Linked DNA regions of Homo sapiens. The protein of the gene in region 1 purifies or fractionates together with the protein of each later gene. This does not show direct contact. Each region holds a gene or a part of one and is shown on either strand. Other genes may lie near its edges. The genes, in order: REG4 and RNF123.

Evidence for each region.
Region 2: the proteins of REG4 (region 1) and RNF123 purify together in Homo sapiens (affinity purification with mass spectrometry; 2 studies listed by BioGRID and IntAct, with this or other methods). This does not show direct contact.

What each region holds. Positions count from the first base shown.
Region 1 is NC_000001.11:119,808,575-119,813,080, reverse strand, and holds the start of REG4 (regenerating islet-derived protein 4 isoform 1 precursor), read left to right. Parts: upstream 1-1,620; 5' UTR 1,621-1,672; intron 1,673-3,878; exon of another isoform or gene 3,879-4,052; intron 4,053-4,217; 5' UTR 4,218-4,311; coding exon 4,312-4,378; intron 4,379-4,506. UniProt on the Homo sapiens protein: Calcium-independent lectin displaying mannose-binding specificity and able to maintain carbohydrate recognition activity in an acidic environment. May be involved in inflammatory and metaplastic responses of the gastrointestinal epithelium.
Region 2 is NC_000003.12:49,695,933-49,699,744, reverse strand, and holds part of RNF123 (E3 ubiquitin-protein ligase RNF123), read right to left. Parts: intron 2,603-3,812; coding exon 2,523-2,602; intron 2,383-2,522; coding exon 2,288-2,382; intron 1,861-2,287; coding exon 1,806-1,860; intron 1,694-1,805; coding exon 1,608-1,693; intron 1,306-1,607; coding exon 1,219-1,305; intron 991-1,218; coding exon 923-990; intron 766-922; coding exon 640-765; intron 278-639; coding exon 163-277; intron 78-162; coding exon 1-77. UniProt on the Homo sapiens protein: Catalytic subunit of the KPC complex that acts as E3 ubiquitin-protein ligase. Promotes the ubiquitination and proteasome-mediated degradation of CDKN1B which is the cyclin-dependent kinase inhibitor at the G0-G1 transition of the cell cycle.

The DNA.
Region 1 (4,506 bases):
CTTTTTGATTCAGACAATTTTCTGGTCCTTTACATTCTTACATCTCAAAGGTTTATGTGAGTCCTATCAATGCCTTAATTTGGAGCTAGTCAATGTGAGGGTTCAGTAAGAGACCTCTTAAAAGTCCTATGAACATCTTGTTTTCTAATCTGTTCTACTCTCTTCTCTCTCATCTCAAGTCTTTAAATCTGGATAATGGCATGGGGATAGCAGACTAAGGGTTGGGATGGCTGCTGGAAACACAGGAGATCTATCTAATCACCCATTTTGTTAAAACTTTTCTGTCTTACATCTGGACCAGGACTTCTGAAATTGAAAGGCTTGGAGTTAACATCTTTGTACGCCATTGTGCCATGAAGCAATGATGATTCCCATCCAGCTGCCTAAAGAGAAAGAGGTTTGTGTCAAACATTCTGATGGGAGAGATTCTTTAAAATGTTCTTTGTGAACCATGAAAGCATTACTTTCTCATGTCCTACCATGAATTTACACAACTGATGCAAAAATCTAATAACAAAGGTTGAGTAGCATTTTCCAAACAACAGTGAGCTGGGAGCAAGGAAGCTGGCTTCTGATATCAGCTTCACCCACAACTGTCTGTGCATTAAACTAGTCACAATGTTTCTCTAGGCCTCAATTTCCTCACCAGTAGAACAAAAGAGTAAGATTTGATAACTACTATGGTCCCTTCCAGACTTAAAGTTTCCAGACATAAAGGTCCTTTACAGACTTAAATCTGTAGTTTAAAGTTGAGTCATCTCTGGCACCTACAACCTAACCCTTTGCCATCTATACTGGAAAAGAAAATCTTGTTACTCTTTTCAAATAGCCTATTTTTCAGTAGAACTGTATTTTGGCAAACACCTATATTTGGAGTCAGAAGGACAAGGTTCAGTGTCCAGGTCCACTGCTGACCAGTGTTGTGAACCTCGGAAGGTTTCTAATCTCTCTTAAGGTTGGGTTTCTTGAGTGTGTAATGGGGATATGTGTCCTATGCTGCTCACAAGGATTTTGTTGGCATCTTATTTGATGACTTCACTGAAAACCCGTTATTGTAACACACTCTGTTGATGTAAGCTATTTTGACATGATCATCCATGTTCTGCGGGAGAAGCTCAAATAGTAGATCTCTGAGGAAACTCACGCATGTTGAAGGAGTGGAGTCGGTGCTTTAGGAAGGAAAATCTGTGTGTGGGTCTCAAGTCTCACCGCATGGGTCATAACCTATTCCTGACCCTGACAGAAAATCCTTCTAGAAATAAAAGAGAAATAAAGGAAATCCACCATACCAAGGCATAAAAAGACAGCCATGAAAAAGTAACATAAGGGGAGAGGAAGATGGGCTTATAACAGATTACAGGATGTTGTCAGTTTTAATAACGTGATGTGAAGAAAAGATTCTGTTTGCACACAGGGAGAGGTTCTTTTCCTGGCTAGTCAAAGCACACCTTACGTACATTCTGAAGCCGTCTCTTATATGATTCATTTTTTTCACTGTAGATAAGACTTTTATGGATGGATTGTTTTTCTCAAATAATATTATCGCTTTGTGACTAAAGTAAAGATTATTAATTCCTGAGGCAAGAAGATATAAAAGCTCCAGAAACGTTGACTGGGACCACTGGAGACACTGAAGAAGGCAGGGGCCCTTAGAGTCTTGGTTGCCAAACAGGTAATCCTCCTCGCGGTTGATGATGGGGGACTTTCTTTAAACATCTGTTTTCCTCTGTCAGCTATTAGCCAGGCCAGAAATGACAAATTGTATTTCTAGTGAGGCTTGTCAGGCTTTCTGTTGCTGTGTTGTTTGATTTAAATTATTTACCTTCTTTTCTTCCTTCACTGCAAAGAGCATTGGCTTTGGTGTCAAGCTGTTGGGTTAAATCTTGGCTCTGCAGTCTGGTAGCTGGGAAACTTTAGAAAAGTTACTCAATCATAAGTGTCAGTGTCTTCATTTGTAACATGCATTCATGAGATCTACAGTGCAGGTTTTTTGTTTTTGTTTCTGTTTTTGTTTTTGTTTTTGTTTTTTTATGGAGTCTTGCTCTGTCTCCCAGGCTGGAGAGCAATGGTGCAATCTTGGCTCACTGCAACTTCTGCCTCCCAGGTTCAAGTGATTCTCCTGCCTCAGCCTCCTGAGTAGCTGTGATTACAGGCACTTGCCACCACGCCCAGCTAATTTTTGTATTTTTTAATAGAGACAGGGTTGTGCCATGTTGGCCAGGCTGGTCTTGAACTCCTGACCTCAGGTGATCCACCTGCCTCAGCCTCTCAAAGTGCTGGGATTTCAGCCATGAGCCACCACACCCGGCCCAGTGCAGCTTACTTATGAACATGACATGCAGACATTCAATGAATATCAGTTCACTAAAAATTATTCACAGATTAGTAAAAAAGATGCTGCCTCTCCCTTCCCCCAGATGGTCACCTTGACAGAGAAATTCTGTTTGCGTTTTAAAGGGGTTTGAGGACATTGAAAATACACTATTACTTTTGGAAGGAAAGTTTAGCAAAGTGCAAGGTTCACGCAATGATTTAAAAAGAAGTAAGGGGTGGGGAAGGTCACATCCACACTCTCCAAGCTTTGTCTCATTCTCAGTTAATGTTGCCTTAAAGTGTTCAGATGGACCCCAGAATTGATTTTCCAGAAAAGTCATCATTTACATTATTCTCTTTAAGCAATCCATTATTTGAGAGTTAGATTGTATATTCAGATTTTTTAATCATAAAGTATGATTAAATGTGAATTCAATGAATTAACTCATTTTAAGAATTATTTGGGAGGGAAATCCAGAACTCAGTTTCATACTTATGTTAAAACAAAGCCCAGACAGATGAAAATAGAACAGTGATAAATATTTTAACCTTATGTGACAGTAATGGCCAGTCTTTTGATATAAATTTAAAAATTATTTTTAAAAACATAAAAAATAACAATATTTTTGAAAATTTCAGAATGGCAAAAATTATAATAAGTAAGAGAAAAATACAAACTGAGAAATACTATTAGTAACACGTGAAAGGCAATAAACATACAAAAAAGATCTCACAAATAAACATACAAAAAAGATCTCACAAACAATGAAATAGAAAAATGTGCAAAACTGTAAAATGAAAATTCACCAAATACTAAAAGCAAATCATTATATAAAAAGATGTTCAACTTCATTAGTAATTATAAAATATTTTAAAACACTAAGGTTCTTCTTTAATATACCAAAATTAGCCAAAAACTTGACAAAATTAAGCATTCTCTGGGAGCTTAGGGAACCAATCCTTTTAGTGCCCTATTAATGAGGTAAATATCACAGCCCATACATTTTAACAAAGGGTATTAAAATGACAATGTGCATGTTGTGTGATGCCACAACCCTATATATGAGAATTTATACTAAAGAAAAAATAAAAAATGCATGAAAGTTATGTGAGTGCAAGACAATGTATTACAATTAATCTGTTTCTGAGAAACAAAACCAGGCTATAGGACTATATGATCTTATTTTTATAAAATTGTACACAGAGAGAGGTGCATAGAAAGATATCTGTAGGCTACTCACCAAATTATCTCCTGGAGATGGGATTTACTTCTTATTTTCTAGTTTTGCATTGATTTTCTAATAGCTCATGTGTTGTTTGCTAATGGGGAAAAGATAAAGCCATGTTCTTTATTTTTAAAAATGATGTCAACTAAGTGTAAAGGAAAGAGTGCTGATGGAGTCAGATCTGCTTATAGCTGGTGTCCATGAACAAATGACTTCATACTTACTGACCTCAGGTTTTCTCATCTGTAAAATGTGGGTATTGGACACTGTGCTCACGTTTAATTTTAACATTTAAAAATTCAATGTCGGAGCCATTCTATTGGATTTTCTTGACAACAGAATGCCCATATCCGTCTTACCTGTGAGGAAGCTTGCCTTGGGCGCCCTCTGCTGGCCCTCCTGAAGCTAACAGGGGCGAGTGCTCGGTGGTTTACAAATTGCCTCCATGCAGACTATGAAACTGTTCAGCCTGCTATAGTTAGATCTCTGGCACTGGCCCAGGAGGTCTTGCAGGTAAGAACAAAATCTCTTAAAATTTTCTAACCTGTACATCTAACTTGAGATTCCCTTCATTATAAAGTCTGGATTTAGCCAGGAAAATATTGTATTATTTTCCTCCATATGTATTAGTTGGCATCTAGATTCCTGGGTCCTTCTCACCTGTGCAAATGTGTTCAGATTTGCAGATCAAGGAGAACCCAGGAGTTTCAAAGAAGCGCTAGTAAGGTCTCTGAGATCCTTGCACTAGCTACATCCTCAGGGTAGGAGGAAGATGGCTTCCAGAAGCATGCGGCTGCTCCTATTGCTGAGCTGCCTGGCCAAAACAGGAGTCCTGGGTGGTGAGTATCCATCACGTAGCTGGAACTGAGCCACAGCCAGTGTTCACACAGCCCATGTGAGACAGTCATCCATTTGCCCACAAAAACATTTAGGAACTGCAGGAAATAGGTTTTTAAACATGGAGATG
Region 2 (3,812 bases), on another chromosome or scaffold:
TGGGCCAGTGTGAGGAGGACGGTGGGCTGGCCCCGCAACCGCCACTTGGAGCTCTCCTTGTCCAACAGCCGCCCCTCCTGTGTGGAGGGGGAGGAGGGAGAAGTGTGAGGGGCAGGAGGCTGTGGAAGCCCCCCACCCCGCCTGGCCCAGACCCCAGCTCACCACAGGGTCCAGCTCCACACTCAGCACTGCCCGGAAGCAGCCCAGCAACCTCTGTGCCCGCACCAGGTCAGCACTCGGTGGGTCCTGCAGGGGCCGGTAGCCTGCCACTGGGTAGGTGCCAGAGTTAAGCCAGCAACGCCTTATCTGTGGCTCAGACATGCCTACTCCCTCTCCACTGCCCACCCCCCACCCCGGGGCCTGGGCTCTAGGGCAGGGCTGGTTTGCATCACAACTTGCCCACTTATTCTCCCTAGGGAGGATGCTTCACATTCCTCATCTGTTCAGTGGAGACAAGGGCACCCAACCAACCAGGCTGCTGCGAGGAAAGTTTTCTTCGACACTCTACATGGCCCCCCACTAACTCTGCAGCAGCCAGGGCCTGCCACCAGCCCATGGCACCCCTGGGGTAGGGAGCCCCTCATCCCAGCCTCCCCAAGAGCTTCTGAGCAGCCCACAGCCATCTTCACAAAATGATATCGCAGAGGACGGCTGCCAAAGTTGAAGGCCACGGACTCCTTGAAAGAGAGGCTGATGGCTGGGAAGTAGGCCATACCCAGGCCCCTGGACAGGTTCTCAAAGGCAGTGCCCAGTGATACACCGTTCCTGGGGAGAAGGGTGGGTCTGTGAGCCAGTGCTAAGCATGTGGCTGCCCACCCTCAGGCTATCAAACTCAGTCTGGCCCCTTACAGGGCCCAGGAAACTGGGGGCAGTCTGGGGAGGCCCCAGGGGCCAGGCCTGTGCATAGAGATAGGAAACTCACAGGCAGAAGGACAGAGTGCCATCATCCAGGTCAATCAGGCAGCTCACGATGTCCCCCGCTGCCCACGCCTGCCATGAGAGGAGGCCTCACCAGATGCACAGAAGCCCAGCAGCCTGCTGACTCTGAACCCCAGCTGCGTTTCCAGAACCACCCAAGGGAGACTAGCCACAAGGACAAAGGACCTGGGTCCCTGACCCTTCCCTGGTGCCCTGTAGTCCCTTATGGCTGCCCAGTGGCTCCAAATAAGCTGTAGTAACAGTCATGGGGCGGATGACCCACAGGGGCTTGGCTCTCACCTTGCCATAATTCGTTGTGGTCACATTCCACTTGCGCACGCGGTTGCCATCATAGGCATAGGAGTTGTGTGTATCTCCAACCCCCTCCTAGGGAGGAAATGCCTATGAGGTCCCTGGTGAGGCAGGCAGGGTCTGGGCCAGAGCCCACCAATCACCAGCCTTGGATGCATATGGCTCTACAGAAGGGAACAGATGATCTGAGGGAAAGAGTAAGAGGTATTCTCTGAGCTGGGGTGCCTGGGATTGGGTGGGACACGTTTCTTCTCCAGAGGGCAGTCCAGGTTAGTTAGGGTCCTAGGCAGTTCTGAGGGGATCTGGAGACCTGATGAGGCCTGTGGCAGGAGAAGCTCTCCCTGGGCCCAGGGAGGGGTCCCCTCCCCAACGTGTACCTCCTGGTTGAAGCGGCAGCTGATGGTGCACCAGCCGATCTGCATGAGCCCCTGGGAGGAGATGAGGACCTCGTAGAGCCATTTCCCTGGAAAGAGCTGAGTTAGGGCCACGAGGTGGACAAAGACTGCCTCTTGCCTCATGCCTGGGCCCTTAAACTTTCTCCTCACTACCTAGGCCACAGCAGGGTAAGGTCTCACCTTTGTACACGCATGTGGTAGAGCGGATGGTGCCAAAGTTGCTGTGTCCAATCACCTGGGTGAAGAAGAGGGGTGGTGGGCTAGCTCCCAGGCACACAGAGCATCTCCCCAAGGGAAAAAGACCCCATCCCCAACTGAGCCAGCCCTGGTGGTATTTGCCTGTGGCGGCCAACACTGCACTGTGCCTGAGGACGGTGGGAGCGGGTAGGCTTGTATCAGGAAGGATCCTGGGCCAAGGCAGGATGAGAGAGGGACTCAGGGCTGTGCTGGGAAGGGCTGGGGGCTGAGTCCACATCAAGACTGTTTCAGGGCTTTAGTGGGAGAGTTTGAGGACTGAGAACACAATGGTCTGGGGCCACGTCAGGACAAGTTTTGGCTGCAGCCCCATCAGATGAGTAGAGAGACTAGGGCCACATCAGGAGGAGCCTGGGGCTATGTCAGAAGGGGCTGGACCTGGGTCTCCACACCTCACCCTCACTCACCCCCAGCAGGTCATCATCCACCAGGAGAAGCCCCTCAAAGCCGCCTGTGTGGTCCAGGACCACAGTGGATGGGCCAAGCCGCCCTTCAACCTGTCCTGAAAAGAGGAGAGGTGGGGTCAGGCAGGGTGGAGCATTTGACAGGATGCATAGGGTGTCCTGAGCTCACCAGACGTCTCCAGGCCCGCTACGTCCCAGCTCTGCACCTCCCAACCCCACTCCAGAGGTGGCCACATACCCTGGCTTTCCTCCTCCTCATTGTCCACCTGTAGCAACTGGTCCAAATGTTCTGGCAGGTTCTGGAAGTTCAGGGGTTTCCTGGGGAGAGTGAGAGGCTGCCAGGGGTCCACAAGTCCTTGAAATCAGCCAGATGACACTAAATCCCATCCTTTCCCCTGAGCTCACAGGGGGGCTGCCTAGACTCCAGAAAAAGGGCTGTGCCTAGTCCTAGACTCTGGCATGCAGGAGGTCAGAAGGCCGAATTCTCCACTAAACTCAAAAGTATAACCAGTCCAGGCCGGGTGTGGTGGCCCATGCCTGTAATCCCAGCACTTTGGGAGGCCGAGGCGGGCAGATCACCTGAGGTCAGGAGTTCGAGACCAGCCTGGCCACATGGTGAAACCCCATCCCTACTAAAAATACAAAAATTAGCTGAGTGTGGTGGCGCATGCGTATAATCCCAGCTACTCGGGAGACAGAGGCAGGAGAATAGCTTGAACCTTGGTGGGGCAGAGGTTGTAGTAAGCCAAGATCGTGTCATTGTACTTCAGCCCGGGCAACAAGAGTAAGACTCTGTCTCAAAAAAAAAAAAAAAAAAAGTATGTGGCCAGGTGCGGTGGCTCATGCCTGTAATCCCAGCACTTTGGGAGGCTGAGGCGGGCAGATCACGAGGTCAGTAGTTCAAGACCAGCCTGGCCAACATGGTGAAATTGCGACTCTACTAAAAATGCTGGGCGCGGTGGCATGTGCCTGTAATACCAGCTACTTGGGAGGCGGAGGCAGGAGAATTGCTTGAACCTGGGAGGCGGAGGTTGCAGTGAGCCATGATCGTGCCACTGCACTCTAGTCTGGGTGACAGAGCAAGACTCTGTCTCAAAAAAAAAAAAAAAAAGTAGCCCTCTCTAAGTCTTAATTCCTTCATCTGTAAAAACAGAATAGTGACTTATGTTAGAGATGCTGTGAAGAGCCCAGGGAATAACAAGTGCTGTCTGCATAGCACATAACCTGTCCGCTCTCAAAGGTGGCTGTGCTGATGATGTCTGGAAGAAGAAGGCTGGGAGAAATGCTGGTTCCCAAAGTGGTCAGTACCAAGGCCACCTAGTCCAACCCTTGCCCCTAGGCCTGTGGTTCCTTTGGGGCAGATTCCAGTCTCGCCACCACCCAGCCAGGGGAGTCTGTGTTGAATGGGACATGTTCTGGAAGTATGAAAGGCTCAGCCCTCTGAGCTGCTGGATGGCTCTGTCCTGTACCCGCCAGTCCATAAATGGTCAGCGGAGCACATGACCCACCTACCCGAGCCAAAGGAGTT